2 separate regions of the Homo sapiens genome follow, and region 2 is linked to region 1. The links come from fine-mapping of genetic effects on gene expression. A gene starts in region 1. The other region holds a variant in brackets. All regions are shown on one strand. Distances are between the middles of the regions.

Region 1 (8,541 bases):
TGACTCATTTCCTGGCCTGAGCCCCTCAGAGAAGGTCTACTCACGGAGGTCCTTCCTCTCTCCCTGGCCCAGCTCCAGTCCTGTACCTCTGAGCTCTCTCCAACCCCAGGCCACACCTTGCCCATCTCCTGGCTTCCATGGACTTCTTTTCTCCACAGCACTCCTCTGGCACTTGGAGGACACTGCCCAGCACTGGTAACTGCTTCTAAGTGAATAGGCCTTCCTCCAAGTGCTTCTGAGTCCTGGAGATCAGGTCCCGGGTGATGAGCTTTTCTGCAGTGGGCAGCGCTTAGCCAGGTATGTAGCTGGCCCTCACCGAGAACTGTTCTACCTAAGCTGATCTACCAACCTGGAAAGTTCACAATCTGAAGGCAGGAGCCAGAAATTCCTGGGGACTCTTTTCTAGTCACGAATGCGGCAGCACATCTGTCCCAGGCTTATCTCACCATATCAGACTGGCACACTCATGGGGCCCACCCAGGCTGATCTCCTGCCCAAATTCAAACTTGGCCTGTTGACACCGTGGATTCCTTTTTCTGAACTTTTAGCTCTCTTCTACCCCTGGAGCCATGGGGTATGAGCTTCCTGCTCCATCTTTCCATTCCCAGAGTGTCAGGATGTAAGCACAAGCATCCAGGTTTCTTGTGGCCTGACTTTTCAAGGAAACAACTGCCTGGTCTTTGATTAAAAAGCTGCCAAGGTGGCATGTTGCTTTGCATGTCATTTGCATGTGGGACAATGTACAGACCCTCCTCCAGCCAAGGCCCCACCAAGGCCCCACAAATATCATTCTTCTCATTTGTTCATGATATTTCAGCCTCCCCCCATGATTAACCAGATTTGAAGGAGAGAAAACAATCTGATTATTTTCAGTATTCTGGACTGACTATCTAATCCATCCTTTTTTTTTTTTTCTTTTCATACAGAGTTTCACTCTTGTTGTCCAGGCTGGAGTGCAGTGGTGCAATCTCGGCTCACTGCAACCTCTGCCTCCCTAGTTCAAGTGATTCTCCTGTCTCAGCCTCCCTAGTAGCTGGGATTACAGGCGTGCGCCACCATGCCCGGCTAATTTTGTATTTTTAGTAGAGATGGGGTTTTGCCATGTTGGTCAGGCTGGTCTCGAACTCCTGACCTCAGGTGATCCACCCGCCTTGGCCTCCCAAAGTGCTGGGATTACAGGCATGAGCCACTGTGCCTGGCCCTAATCCATCCTTTTCTGTCAAGGGTCAGGGACACTGGTCCTGGAGGTTCTGGGACAGAGCTGAGCAGCATGCCCACCTGTGCATATTTCTACTTGTCTTTCTGTGCTCCTGACTGTCCGTTTGCTCATCTTCTGCCTTCCTGTTTTTCTACATTTCTGTCCAGTGGTGGAGGCCCCCTCCCTGCCCCTCCCTGCCCCCATCCTCTTTTCTCCTGACACCTGCCTCTCCCAGTGCCTCCTGGTTCCTAGGCCTGTGCTCCCCTTACCTCTGGCAGCACACCTCCCAGGCGGGGGGCCTGATGACATATGATGTGTGGAAGGCAGAGGAGGGTGGGGCTGGGAGGAGGGTGGGGCTGGGAGGAGGGTGGAGTGGTGCTCCCTGCTGATCTGCCTTTCTCAGATGAGAAGGGTGGTGACACTGGCTGGGAAGTCCAAGTTGCTGTTTCATGGCCCCAAAGAGTTCCTCTCAGGAGGAGCCCCTCTGGTCTGCCAGACCCTCCTTGGTGCCTGGCCTCTGGAGGCTACCCCTTGATGGAATGTTTGAGGGCTTGTGGTGAGGGTTTGACACTGGCCCTCCTGTGACAGCTCAGCCCCCAGTTATAATGCTGTTGATGCCTGTGGTCTTTGCATCCCATGAACCAGCTCTGTGGCCATGGGAGTGAGTGGTAGGAGCCTTCACATTTCTTCAGAGCCTCCTTATAATTGGGATTGTCCCCAAGAGTGGCAAGAACTAGCTTGGGAAGTGAGTTCATAATCCATGAACACAGCCCCTGGTTATAGCCTCCTGGTTGGCATGACCTTCCTGGCTTAGAACCCTAGCTTGACAGATCTTTCACAAACCCCTAGGACTTTATGACTCAGAGGAGAAGGCAGCTGACAAGTGGAGGTGGGTGGGGAGTCAAGGAGGAGTGACCTGGCGCTTCCTGGCAGAAAGTCCTGCCTCCCAGCCGCCCTAAAGAGGGGTAGGGGAGAGTGTCCCTGTCTGTTGGCAAAGTCCAGCCTCCTGTGTGACTCAGACAGAGCTTTGTTCAACAAAGACAAACACCCCTACCCCACTCCTTTCATTCCCTATCAAAGTTCTGAGCACCCCTTCCTGGCTTGTCTTTAGGCATGAGGTCTGCTTCCCAGGTTGCCCGCTCTCTACCATCTCTGCACTTTGGGGTACTGGGCTCCCCTGGGAGGTTTATTCCACCCTCTCACCTCCACCAGGGAAGGAAGCAGAGGGGAGGGCATTGCAGTCAGAGACAAGAGGCTAGAGAATTATTAACTGAGACAAAAGCAGAGGAAGTTACTTATTTTCTATGGGAGATGATAACTAGGGGCCTGGGGGGGCGTTCACCATGCCTCCTCAACTGCAGGAGGCCAGACCCTGGTGACAACGGTTACCATCTATTGACCACCCATTCTGTGGTGGGCATTTGACATTTATTAGCTCAATAATGACAATTATTATCTCACACAAGGTAGATATTCTTAACTGCATTTGACAGACAAGGGAATTGAGGTTCAGAGGAGTTAAGTAGCTTGCCCAATATTACATACCCAACGTGTGGCTCACCTGGGCTCAGTGTTGGCCAGTTGGAGCCAAAATGCATCCTTTTCCCTCTCAACTGCTTCACTCATTCATTCAAGACATGTTTATTGAACACCTTCTATCTATCAGGCTGTACCAGGAGCTGAGGAGACAGCCGAAAACATGGGAAAAGTTCCACAAGGAGTTTTCATTCTTGTGGTGCCACCGCTCCTAGGCAGAGTTTTAAGAACTCAGAATGGCAAATGGCCCCAAAGTTCAGTTGTCTCCCAACCGGCAGTGTCTCTGCCAACTTTGGGTGGGGGAAGTAGAAAGCACCTTGTGTAAGGAAAAATATGGGTACATCTCAGGTCCACCAGCAACTGGTGAGTCATTAACCGTCTCAGTGGCTCCACTGTCTTCTCTGTGTGGGGAGCGGGTGGAACTAGATGCTCTCTAAGCTCCTTGGACCGGTTGCATTGGCATCAGCTGGGAGCTTCTTTGAGCTGCAGAATCTCAGGCCCCATACTAGACCTACAGAATCAGAGCCTGCATTTTAACAAGATCTCCCAGGTGACTGTTGTGCACATTATAGTTTAAGAAACTCAGATGAAGGTTCCCTCCTCCTCCTATCTGCTATTTTAATAATAGCCTCTGGCTGGGGACAGCCACTCACCAGCAGAGGGCACTGTAAGGAGGGGTTTCAAGGTGCAGCACCTACACCCAGGTTGTCTCCCTGCCTCCCTCCTTCCTTCCAGACCTAGACTGGAAAGTTCACTGACTTCTGGGATCCTCAGCTAATCCCTTACCTGGGCTGGACTTTGCCAATAGACAGGGACACTCTCCCTCACCCCTCTTTAGACAGCTGGGAGGCAGGGCTCTGCCAGGAAATGCCAGGCCACTCCTGCCTGGATTCCCCGCCCACCTCCACTTGTCTGCTGGCCTGCCGACTGAATCTGGCTGACCCTTGTTTCTCGGAGAAGGAACTGGACCAGCCAGCAGCCTCTAAGAGCTCCTAGACGGTAAGTTGAGCACCCCCTTGGGGCAGCTGGAGAGGGGATGGGCATTGTGATGGGGTTACCTGGAGCTTCGGGGGAGGAGCCAGGCCAGCTTAGCCTGCCTGCTGGAGTGTAGGGACCCTCTGCTGGAGGAGGGGAGGAAAATGGGACTTGGCCAATGGGTATGAGGACCACTGGGATGATTCTGTGTCCTGCGGAAATGTCTACTATACTAACAAATGCCATTCATGACTTGGGTTTGGACCATCCATCCCAGTACTTGTTATGTTCTGCAGTAACTGGACATCTATCAGGTGTTGGGGAGGCACAGGGAGAACCAGTGAGGTGGAGGAAAGGTTGAGAGTTTTCTTAAAGGGTATGAGCAGAACTTTGCAGCAGGAGTTTGGATCTTTGTGCTGGAGGATGCAACTGCCTAGGGACAGGTGATGGCAGCATTCTAAAGGACTCTCGTTTCGGGGACCCGCTACCCAGGGTGATCTGGGGTCTGGAGCAAGACAGACTGGAGGAGTGGGTAATGAGGAGTCCAGGCATGGGGTTGGGATGCCCCAAGTCACACTCGAATGGCTGCAGTGCTATAGTTGCCATTCAGCAAGACTCCGGACCTTTCCCCATTCTGGAGCCAGAGGGAGGATGCAGTGAGGGCCAGGGCAGCCTGGAAGAGCAGTCACCCTGGGAGAGGCCCAGTGGGGCTTTGGGAGTGGTGCATGCCAACTTCTCCAGGGTCGGAGGTTGAGCCAGGGGACTCTACTGCACCACCCAGTGAGGTGCACCTCACTGGGGATCTGGACTCTGGTCTTTGGTGGCCCCAGGAAGGTTACTGCTGTGTAAGCGAGCTGGGGCCCCTCCTTTCATCCCTTTAGCAATTCCATCCCCTGCCACTGGTACCTTGGTAGGTGGGGGTGTGGTGTAGTGGGGTGGGTATTACCACATAACTGAGGATGTAAATTTAGGTCCTTCTATTTGTCTTTACTTCATTTTTGCTTCTTTCTCTTCCAACTTTATTTCTTCTAGAGAAGGAAAGGAAGATACTTGGGGAAAAGAAGGGGTGGAGAGAGAAAGGGGGTATCTCTGGAAGTCCTTGTTCGTCTTTGCTCCTCCTTCCTGCCTGTCTTCAGTTGTTTAGTAATTCCCTATCCATCTTCACTGTGGGGAGAAAGCTCGGATTCCTTATCTGTGAAATGGAGATAAAAATAACACCTCGCTCCTAAGGCTGCTGTGAGGATGAGATGAGACAAGCCATGGAGAGTGCTTTAACACAGTGGCATTGAGTAAAGCTCTGCGAATGTTAGCTATTGTTATTACAGTTGGAATTATAATTATTACTAATGTGAAAGAACCAAAAGAAATGATGGGACATCAACGGTAGCTTGCTGCTCCAACCCCCTTCCCATCAGCTTTGGGACACTGCCAATTCACTGATTCACCTGTGTGCCCTCCAGGATGCCTGGTTGAAAAAGGCTGGTGCATTGTCTGCTGGGTTGGCTCTTTAGGCAAAGAGAACAATGCCAACCCCCGCTTCTTATTCACACTTTCAGTGAGGACATGGGAGAAACAGGTACTGCCCCAGTCTTCAATCCTGAGGATACAGTGGAGGTTCTGCCCTGGTCTAAGAGGCACTAGGAAGGGGCTTCAGTTTTCATGGGTCCTGAGGTTGGAAGGAAGAAGGTGGGCCAAGCCTCAGTTCCAGGTGGGTAGTGCAAGTGAAGGGCGTGGGGAGGACTGGATACTGGAAGCTCTTCCAGTGCAGCCTCTAGTGAGTCAACCAGAGGGGCCTCCCAGGGCTCTGAAGGAGGACGTTGTGCCTCACAGAACTCAGCTACCAAGCCAATGAATTCCATTCCTGCAGAAGCTCCTTGAGAGCGGAATAAGACGTCATCTTTGGCAGGATTGAACTTCCCACAGTGTCCGATACACAGCCGGTGCTTAGAAAATGTTCATTTGAGTGGGAAAATCACACATGACAGCACATAATCAAGAGTGACTCAGTATGGTGGGATGGCTGTGGAGAGAGATTTCGCGAGCTGGAGGCTGTCAAAGGCCGGTGCACCAGCGGGAGGCACTATTGAATGGGAGGATCCACGTAGGGAGAGGAAACAAGTGGGGAGAGCAAGTGAGTGGAGAAACAGAAAACAGCATGAGCAAAAGCCAGAGGCTAGAATTAAGCAGGTGTGGGGAGCCTGGGCAGGCTACAGGGCAGGCGTGTTGGAAATTGTAGGGGCTGGAAGAGGGGAAGTAGGAGGAGGCGGAGGTGGGTTCTGGAGGGCCTCAGGAAGAGCTACTGGGAAGTCTCAGCCTGTGGCCTGGCTGGGTAGCCAGGTGAGCAGGAGGTGAGTGTATGCTTTTGCCCTGCCTCATTCCAGCTTCACTGTAGGGCTGCATCTTTGTGTTTTGTCTTCTTCATTTTTTTTTTTTTTTGCTTCCACTTTTAGCTTTTGTTGTTCTTGTTGTATGTTGCCTATCCCTGTGAGCTACCTTCAGGCCTTTCTGGCAGAAGGAGGGGCATAAAGAAACACATACATTTGGACAGTGCTTTCTCATCTACAAATACTTTTCACATGACCTTATGCCATCCTCACCATTACACAAAGAGGCACTTTTTCCCCACTTTTAATAGCTTCAGAAAAGAATTACAAAGTTAATACAAACTACATGCTTGATGTGAAAAATTCAAAGTACAGAGAAAAGGATTTAAAAAAATACAAAGTTTTTATTCACACCTTCCACCTTCTCAATTTGTTGTGACTCATGGGAATAGTTTGGGGGTGTGTCCTTCCAGACCTGCACAGTCTAAGACCGGATTCATTAGTACACGTGGCTACTGGGCACTTGAAATACAGCCAGTCCCAAGTGAGCTGTTCTGTTCATATAAATTACACATGGATTTCAAAGACTGGGTATGAAGGAAGAAAGTAAAAATATCTCATAATTTTATATCGATTACCTGTTGAAATAACATTTTGAATATATTGGGTTAAATAAAATGTATTAATTTCTCCTGTTCTTTTTAATGTGGCCATCAGGAAATTTAAAATTACATGTGTAGTTCACATTACATTTTTATTGTACACCACTGCTCCAGACCTTTCTCTATACCTTTACATTTCCATATATGCACCCATAAATATGTATCTATTTATATGCAGTTTTGTTTTTCACATTAATGAGCTCAGAATATTTTATCTCTCTGCGACTTGCTTTTTCCACTTATAGATTTTTTTGTATCAGCACTTGTAGATCAAGGTAGATATTTGGACAGATGAGGAAACTGAGGTACATTAAGCAGTATTGAGGCAGGAGGTGGGATTTGATTCCAGGCCAGATAGAAAACTGGCTGAAACAGGGAAAAGGCACCAAAAGCACCTCTCCATAAGACATGCCCACCAGTGCCATGACAGTTTACCACTGCCATGGCGATGCCTGGAAGTTACTGCCCCTTTCCATGGCAGTGACCCGAAGCTACCACTCCTTTTTCTAGAAATTTCTGAATAACCCACCCCTTACTGCATGTAATTAAAAGTGGACATAAATATGATGGCAGAAATGCCCCAGAGCTGCTACCCTGGGCACACTGCCTAGGGTTAGCTCTGCTCTGTAAGGAGCATACCTCTGCTGCTGCTATACTCTGCCACTTTAGTGAAAGTTGCTGTCTGACACCACTGGCTCACCCTTGAATTCTTGCCTAGGTGAAGCCACAAACCCTCCCAAACTAAGCCCCAATTTTGGGGCTCTCCTGCCTTACATCAATATGATAAGTTTACCCAGCCACAGTGACCAAGGTGACATTTGAACTCATGTTCTCTAACTGTAAACCCAAGCTCACTCTGCTTCAGAACAGTTTACCTTGATGTATTAGGTCACGGGGAGCCAGGGTAGGTTCTCGAGTAAGAGAGACAGGTTAAAAGAATTGGTGTGACTAAAGTGTGCAGTGTGCGCTGGAATGAAGACAACTTGCAGCTATGTGTAAGCCAAGCCTTGACCTCCACAACTTAAAAGGGCTTACCCTGACACTGACCCCTTCTTCCCCACCAGGCCTTTGGCTTTGGCTGGCACAGGGGTGAAGGAGAGCCAGCGGCATTGAGTAACCAGGCGAATGTGCCCCCAGGAGAGTTCATTCCAACCCTCCCAGTTCCTACTGCTGGTGGGGGTCCCAGTGGCAAGTGTCCTCCTTCTGGCCCAATGCCTTCGATGGCACTGCCCTAGAAGGCTGCTGGGGGCCTGCTGGACACTGAATGGTCAAGAGGAACCAGTGTCCCAGCCTACCCCCCAACTAGAAAATGAGGTCTCAAGGCAGCACCTGCCAGCCACACTGCCAGAGATGGTTGCCTTCTACCAGGAGCTACACACACCCACTCAAGGCCAGACCATGGTCCGCCAGTTGATGCACAAACTGTTGGTGTTTTCGGCTCGAGAGGTGGATCACCGCGGCGGTTGCCTGATGCTCCAGGATACAGGCATCTCCTTGCTCATCCCACCAGGTAACAGCTCCTGGCTCTCATCTCCGCATACAGTTGGTCAGACTGTACATTAGGTCACCACATCTGAGGGAGCAATGTTCATAGACACCTTTTACTTCTGATAATTGTTTATATTTTGAGTATAGCTTTATTGACTTCAGGGATGGACATATTACATATCTTTTGGGACAACTTCCTGGCAGGTGGAAGTAAAGTGCCTTGTTCTAATGAATCAGTATGCTGTGACAATTCTCTAGTAAAGGGAGGGAAGAGCACCATTTGCAAATTCACACAAGGCACACTATGGGCTAGCAGCAGCCTGGGTGGAAAGGGAAGTGTCTTGCTTAGGGTTACACT
Region 2 (8,541 bases), 86 kb before region 1:
GTTAGAATGGCAATCATTAAAAAGTCAGGAAACAACAGGTGCTGGAGAGGATGTGGAGAAATAGGAACATTTTACACTGTTGGTGGGACTGTAAACTAGTTCAACCATTGTGGAAGTCAGTGTGGCGATTCCTCAGGGATCTAGAACTAGAAATACCATTTGACCCAGCCATCCCATTACTGGGTATATACCCAAAGGACTATAAATCATGCTGCTATAAAGACACATGCACATGTATGTTTATTGTGGCACTATTCACAATAGCAAAGACTTGGAACTAACCCAAATGTCCAACAATGATAGACTGGATTAAGAAAATGTGGCACATATACACCATGGAATACTATGCAGCCATAAAAAATGATGAGTTCATGTCCTTTGTAGGGACATGGATGAAATTGGAAACCATCATTCTCAGTAAACTATCGCAAGAACAAAAAACCAAACACCGCATATTCTCACTCATAGGTGGGAATTGAACAATGAGATCACTTGGACACAGGAAGGGGAATATCACACTCTGGGGACTGTGGTGGGGTCGGGGGAGGGGGGAGGGATAGCATTGGGAGATATACCTAATGCTAGATGACACGTTAGTGGGTGCAGCGCACCAGCATGGCACATGTATACATATGTAACTAACCTGCACAATGTGCACATGTACACTAAAACTTAGAGTATAATAAAAAAAAAAATTAAAAAAAATAAAAAAATAAAAAAAAATAAAAAAAAAAAAAGAAAATGTGGCACATATACACCATGGAATACTATGCAGCCATAAAAATGATGAGTTAATGTCCTTTGTAGGGACATGGATGAAATTGGAAATCATCATTCTCAGTAGACTACTGCAAGAACAAAAAACCAAACACCGCATATTCTCACTTATAGGTGGGAATTGAACAATGAGAACACATGGACACAGGAAGGGGAACATCACACTCTGGGGACTGTTGTGGGGTGGGGGGAGGGGGGAGGGGGGAGGGATAGCTTTAGGAGATATACCTAATGCTAAATGACGAGTTAATGGGTGCAGCACGCCAGCATGGCACATGTATACATATGTAACTAACCTGCACATTGTGCACGTGTACCCTAAAACTTAAAGTACAATAATAATAAAATAAAATAAAATAAAATAAAATAAAAAGAAATAATTTCCCGCCGGGTGTGGTGGCTCATGCCTGCAATCCCAGCACTTTGGGAGGCTGAGGTGGGCTGATCATGAGGTCAGGAGATGGAGACCATCCTAGCTAACACGGTGAAACCCCATCTCTACTAAAAATACAAAAATTAGCAAAGTGTGGTGGCACATGCCTGTAATCCCAGCTACTCAGGAGGCTGAGGCAGGGGAATCACTTGAATCCGGGAGGCGGAGGTTGCAGTGAGCCAAGATCATGCCATTGCACTCCAGCCTGGGCAACAGAGAGAGACTCCATCTCAAAAAAAAAAAAAAAAAAGAAAGAAAAAAAAAGAAATAATTTCCCTATAGAGAATCAAAAATTGCCTTTCCAAATCTTCTCTGTTAACCTTAATACTGAGTACAAGAGTCACCACTCCTCATCTGCAAGTGACATAAGTGGCTCAGTTTAATGGTCATCTTTCTGTCACTTTTGGTCCCTCCATGTTCACCCTCAGCATCTCTGTCTACCTGCAGCATTCACTTGAGAAGGCCTCCTGAGTTCTGGATGGTTTTGTCTGGAACTGAAAACTATCTGTAGGGAGAAAAAAATATGATTAATTCTCCATGTTTGGATGAACTGAGGACATTTTAAATTCCTGACTACCTTTCTTCTGCAGTTTACAACACAAAATTAGGATGGTAGTTTGTAAATTCCTTCACAACTACTTGTGATTCAAATAATAACTCTCTTCATTCCCAAACCTTTAAACTAGTTCTGATTTTGAAGGAGGTGCTCAGTAGTTTCAAAATGAAGGAAAAATAAAGAATGTGTCTATCCTGGTTTGCTGGCTATCACTAATAGTGGAAATCCTTGAATACATATGGATCAATTTCATGACCAGATCGGAGTGAAGTGTAAAGGCTAAAACCAAGTGAAGAAAATTGTGACAGTATAAGATACCACAGTTCCCTAGTCAGTGACCAAGAGAGCTTTCCAGCTTTACCTAGCAGGCTTTTAATTAGCCTTTATCCTAAAGATTTGACTCTTCTTCTAAAGCTGCCTTCTAATAGATCACAACAGCAAATATTAGGAATGATGTTCAGATGTTACCCATTGGAACTCACAGCATGGATGGTGGGATTGATAAGGAGTCTAAGAGGACTGTTTTAGGGAGGATTTGGGTTAAGTAAAAGGACTGGCTTGCTGATGATAATAATGTTAAATCACAGCTAAGATAACTGAGGATATTGGCAGCTCTACTGCAGTACATAACTCCAAGAGGCACCATCATATCATAGCCTCTGTAACAGTACCCTCTGGAATCAGGCAGTGCCTGGTCTGCAATGGCAATGCACAAAGGCCTTGGGTCTGGGAAGCCTCCTTAAGGTTCTGCTGGGCTGAGAAGGTCTTGAGCCTTTTTACTATAGATGGACCAGGCTGTCTAATCCAAAGCAAAATAAATAAATAAATAAATAAACAAAACTGACCTCTTTTTATTTATTTATTTATTAATTTTTTTGAGACAGAGTCTTGCTCTGTAGCCCAGGATGGAGTGCAGAGGCGCGATCTTGGCTTACTGTAAACTCTGCCTCCCAGGTTCACACCATTCTCCTGCCTCAGCCTCCCGAGTAGCTGGGACTACAGGTGCCTGCCACCACGCTCGGCTAATTTTTTGTATTTTTAGTAGTGATGGGGTTTCACCGTGTTAGCCAGAATGGTCTCGATTTCCTGACCTTGTTATCTGCCTGCCTTGGCCTCCCAAAGTGCTGGGATTACAGGTGTGAACCACTGTACCTGGCCAAAACTGACCTCTTAAAAGCAAAAAAGTCACACAGGAAATATGAACAATAGCACAATTTCTTCACAATACCAGACTTTGGAAAGCACAACAGGTGCAAATGCACATAGAGCTCATCAACCAATGACTAATTGCTCCAAGTCATTGGTCCACCTTCATAGTCATGATGCTATAGCTAGAAGAGGAATTGTATCATACACCAAATCCCTCATTTTAGCCTTTTGCCAACAACTATCTATCATTTTCCACATACCATCCACCCCACCCCCAATACCAAACCAACTCCTCTTTTATCAAAGTAGGGAAAGAGGACTTGGTTGGGTCTTGATAGCTATCTTCAAGTATGGAAGAGAATATAACTATGAAAAATGGGGGAAACTACAACGAGGCAGCTTACATCCTGATGAAAGAAGAAACTTTCTGACAGCTGGAGACAATGAGCTGTTCTGTAATGTAAGCTAACTGAAAAGGCTAAACAAAGATGAATGAACTCATCTGGGATGCAGTTTAACAGGATATGGTGAATATCTATTAACTAATAAAACCTTCTTCAGGTAGCTAACTCCTGCTTATCCCTCTAGATGCAATTCTGACATGATCTACTTCAAAGGAGAATCTTCACTGACATATTTCCCTGGCTGAGTTAATGGCCCCTTCTCATTTTCATTGCTTTTACCATGCCATACTAGAATTCTCTATCTATATGTCTATAGTAACCCCCAAAACAGATAGCTTCAAGAGTGCAAAGACCAAGGCTTATTCACACCATATTCCTTAGTATAGAATCTGATACACATAAGGACTCAATGTGTGTGTACTGAGCTGAAAAATAATAGTAATAATCAAAACAATAGCTAAAGGGTATTGAGCAATCACCACATGTCTGGCACTGTTCAGAGCACACTATATATTTTAACTAATTTAATCCCCACAATGACCCAGTAAAGTTGATATTATTATTTATTAATTAATTTATTTATTTCGAGACAGAGTCTCACTCTGTCACCTAGGCTGGAGTGCAGTGGCGCAGTCTCGGCTCACTGCAACCTCTGGCTCCCAGGCTCAAGCGATTCTCCTGCCTCAGACCCCCAAGTATCTGGGTTTACAGGCGCCTGCCACCATGCCTGGCTAATTTTTGTATTTGTAGTAGCGAGGGGGTTTCACCATGTTGGCCAGGCTGGTCTTGATCTCCTGACCTCAAGTGATCCACCCACCTAAGCCTCTCAAAATGCTGGGATTACAGGTGTAAGCCACTGCACCCAGCCCATGAAGTTGGTATTATTATGTCCCCAATTGATTGAGGTTAAGTAACTTGCCCAAGATTGCCAATCAAAACAAATATGATCTCTAAGGTAGTTTTTAACTCTGAGATTACATTTTTTTTTAATCTCTAGTACTTCAGGAATAAATAAGTGGTTCTTTCTACCTACTTTTCTCCTTTAATCTGATTTCAACTTTTTGATGAAGAACTCCAAGTACACGAATACCCATGTATTCTTTCTGCCTCCTGGGTTTACCTTGGGGAGAAGGCAGCTGCAATTTTTCTGTGATCACTTGTGTTAGCACTGAGCCAGTATCTCTGTAAGTACAGAATCGAGAGGTCCCCTTGGAATTCTTAGTAGAACAAACTGCAAAATGATGAAAGGGGACAAAGTCTCCTCCATGGCAGCTCCCACAGCGGCAGGCCAAAACTTGGAGAAAGCAGGCACATTCAAGGTGCAGAGCTATCTGTTGTTCCTTGGGCCAGAGCTCCCAAGCAGCTGCCC[G/A]TAGCAGAGGCACTCCAAATTCCAACACCTCAGTTTGTGGTAGGGATAATTCTTCTTGTAGCCTGAGAAGAGAGGCTGACCCACCATCTGAAATTTAGGAAAATCTAAGTGAGATTTTCCTTTATAATCCTTTGTGCTTCAATATGGCAAACTCCCAAGCACATGGCTGCTAGTGTGTAAGAAAATTCTATTTACAACTCTAAGCTAATATTACTGCCTCCTTTGTATAAAAAATTTTGCACCATTCTAAGAGTGATACTGACCATATCTTGTATAAAGTACAACAGAGAAGAAATGATCAGTGGTACAAAAAAATCCTGTACTTCTATACCACTGATTTCTTTTTTTTTTTTTTGAGACGGAGTCTCGCTCTGTCGCCCAGGCTGGAGTGCAGTGGCGGGATCTCGGCTCACTGCAAGCTCCGCCTCCCGGGTTCACGCCATTCTCCTGCCTCAGCCTCCCAAGTAGCTGGGACTACAGGCGCCCGCCACTACGCCCGGCTAATTTTTTGTATTTTTTAGTAGAGACGGGGTTTCACCGTTTTAGCCGGGATGGTCTCGATCTCCTGACCTCGTGATCCGCCCGCCTCGGCCTCCCAAAGTGCTGGGATTACCACTGATTTCTTAATTGTTTCTCCTAAATTGAGGTTTTACTTCAAATTATTACAAATGTCAAATCATAGGAAATTCTCTGTTCAAATATAGGGCCCAAACATATTTCAAACTCAAAGGGAAAGTATTTGTGAATTCTATGTGCTTTGGGTAGTCCATGCTACCATCTTATTCTTTCATGTGGATAATTCGAGATTGCAAGCTATTTATATCTTGCTTTGTTCATGTCTGTTTCAATGCCACATGTGTTTGTCTTCCTTGTGAGTTTCTAAAATTGGGGATGGTTTATCCTTTTATCTCATTCTTTGCACCTAGAAGCCAATAAAAGATTATGTCAATATTTTCAGAACCAAAAATCAAAACACAAATACCAACACCTGGGTTAAAAAGGCGCTAGAATTCCTGAAATGAAGACAAGTCTGAAAATACAGGATATTTTTTCACTATCCATGGCTCTTTCATGGTTTAAATGATAATTTTCTCTCTGTTTCTTAGCCATAGGCTTTGAGAGAGAGACCCTCAAACTGGGTGTGGTGGTATGCGCCCACTGAGCCCAGGAGTTACAGCCTGGGCAACATAACAAAACTCCATCTTTAAACAAACGAATGAGAGAACCCCTTGATATATGATATTGATGGCCTTTCTGAACACAGATACCCCCACAGGGACTCTTTGTTCAGACCTGAGAAAAAGGGAACAGCCCTTCCTTACCTAACTTTGTCTTCTTCTCTTTGGTTCCATCAATGATGTCGATAGAGGAAGGCATTAATATGGGCTCAGCAGGAAGCTCTTGGCTCTTGTCAGACCAGCAGAGCACATGTATATCCACAAGAGCTCTCAAGACCTGAAGTAGCTTATTTTTATCCCAGCCAGGCAGGAGGTGCTGCAGCAAATCTATATGGAAGGAGTGACCAATGATTGCAGCACACTTGACCAGCAACTGTTCCTCTGGGCTCAGTTGATCCAGTTGGCTTACTGCTATTTCTGCCAAAATCAATCAATCAGTCAATCAGCAGTGAACAAGATTTCTACAAATCTAGAATATATCATGTTGAAAATGTGTACAGTTTTTTTTTTAAATAAAGATGAAAACTTTTCATCTACCCCTGTCTACTGCTCCCACCTCAATCCTCCCTTCTCCACTTAGCCAAACTTCTTTGCTTATGCTAAGAACAACCTCTGCTTGGGAAACTGAATTTGGACTGGGAAAACTGAATGAACTGGTGGCAAGCCACAGATTTGGGCTTCCTTGGGTATAATAATTCTTGTAAAAGGTCATGCCTCTTGCAGAGCCTGAAAGTGATGCCTGTTCGGGCCATTATAAGAGATATGGCCTTCAGTTGGTCCATGAGGCCTCTAAGCACCCATGAGTCATGGTTTCATTCCTCACAGCTGAGCTATTACTTGAGGTTCCAGAGAATAGCCCCTGGAGTGCTATGTAAACTCCTGTAAAAACTCTCACTGAAGAAAAGTACCTGCTGTTGTCCTGTTAGCATCCTGTATTTCCTTCTGAGTAAGAAAAGCCATTGTTAAGTATGGTCTATCATAGTTCTATCAGTGTAAACTGTCTAGTTGAACCTAAAACCTTCAGAGTAAAAAGCTTATAATATAATAGCTAACAGTCATGGAATATTTATTATGTGCCATAATTTATTTAATTTAATCCTCAACTAGCCCCAAGAGGTAGGGACTATTATTATCCTCATTTGACTGATGAGTGAGAAGTTGACTAACTTATTCAAAGTTCCATAGTTGGTTAGTGCAGGAGCCCATGGTGCCCAGGGTTTTCTGACTCTAGAGCCCTGGCCCTTAACTACCATGGTGTCCTGAACTGCTGTTTCATGTGTGTGTCTTATTTTCTCAACAAGACCATACTTTACTTGAAGGTATGCTGTTCATTACAATATTCCTCAAGAAGGCTTAGTATTAGTACCTTGCCCACCAAACACTTGAATTAAATATTAAAATAAGAAAAATTCATTTCTAAGAAGAACATCCCCTCTCCAACTATGCCTACCTGATTCTGATAGTTTCATTATTCTTTATGGCATCAGTCATTCTACTTTGCACTCTTTTTTTATTAAACTCTTGCTATGTGCATAACATTGTATCTTCACTAACACCATGGATTTTCTTAAATCTTAGCAACATCATCTTCTTTGCTTACTGTCTACTCTGGAACAAGAATATGCACAAAGGGAAACTCACGACCTATTTTGTATTAAATAATTGGAAAACTTTTCCAGGTCATCAGTCAGCCCCAAAGAGAACAATAAGCTCGCTTAAGTAAAACCTTACTCAAGTAGCATTACAAGTCTTCAAAGAGCTCTTCAGGCAATGCCAGAACTTATTTCTAGAAGGTGGATTTCTTTTTTAGAAGAAATGAAGCCAGAATGATAATGAGAGACCTATACTCAACTACTCACCAAATCACTAATTGCAATGATATCTGTAATTGGTTCACTTGAAGTCTTCAAGGGACTTACCTTTCAAAAAGGGTAGGAGAAGTACTGTATCCAAGTTCACATCATCCTTGACTGTGCAGACATAAAGTTCCTGGCCTTCCTCAGAGTTGGCAGGAGAAATACTATACATTATGGATTTCATGGCATTGGCTATAAAGAAAACAGGCTATGACTGAGGAAAGCACCATTCTCAGTGACTGTAGTTTTAAAGGCACAAAAATATAATAATTTAGTCAAAAAAAAAAAAAAACCTAAAGGATGAAGATGACTGGAGTGTACCATGGTTTAAAGTGTTTTACCCCACCTGTCTGCCTGTTCTCTAATTTTCTCTTATAAACTAACAACATTCTCTGTACCAATCGGTATCTTACAACTAATCACTATTCCTGTTCACCTTATAACAGCTCTTGCTTCTATTACATCACAGCTCTGGGATGCCTTCTGCTTTTATACATACTTCTACCCTTTATTCCTCTCCTAATTTCCTCCCTTCTCCCATCCCCCATCCAAATCCTCAAGTCATCCTTCTCATCAATAGTGTACAATTCTTTTTTCTGGACTTTCATGTTTATAAATCGTAATTTCCTAGCCCTACCTCTTGGGCTGCTTATAAAAGGAACTATTGTAGATTGATTGGATTAAGTTATCTGAAGCAAATCTTGAGTATTTTCACCCTACTTGTATAAGATTTGTACAGTGTGCTTATCTGGGAAGGCCTAGTGTGGCCCACAATGTTAGCAAGGAAAAGGTATGTACCTCGTAAAGGCCAAGTAATGT

What was found. PIP is the estimated chance that this variant, and not a neighbour inherited with it, causes the effect.
Region 2: its variant is the best candidate, but not a certain one, in a credible set for the expression of UNC5CL in whole blood (TOPMed, PIP 0.89).

Annotation. Positions count from the first base shown.
Region 1 is chr6:41,034,354-41,042,894 of GRCh38, reverse strand. It overlaps UNC5CL (unc-5 family C-terminal like), which reads left to right and starts at 3,674. Exons shown (of 9, transcript NM_173561.3): 1 at 3,674-3,733; 2 at 7,760-8,205. The coding sequence starts at 7,821. It overlaps TSPO2 (translocator protein 2), which reads right to left and starts at 428. Exons shown (of 4, transcript NM_001010873.3): 1 at 117-428.
Region 2 is chr6:41,120,719-41,129,259 of GRCh38, reverse strand. It overlaps the pseudogene ADCY10P1. Among named protein-coding and RNA genes, the nearest start is that of TREML1, 29 kb to the left of the region's middle. The variant G/A (reference allele first, on the strand shown) is at 4,689.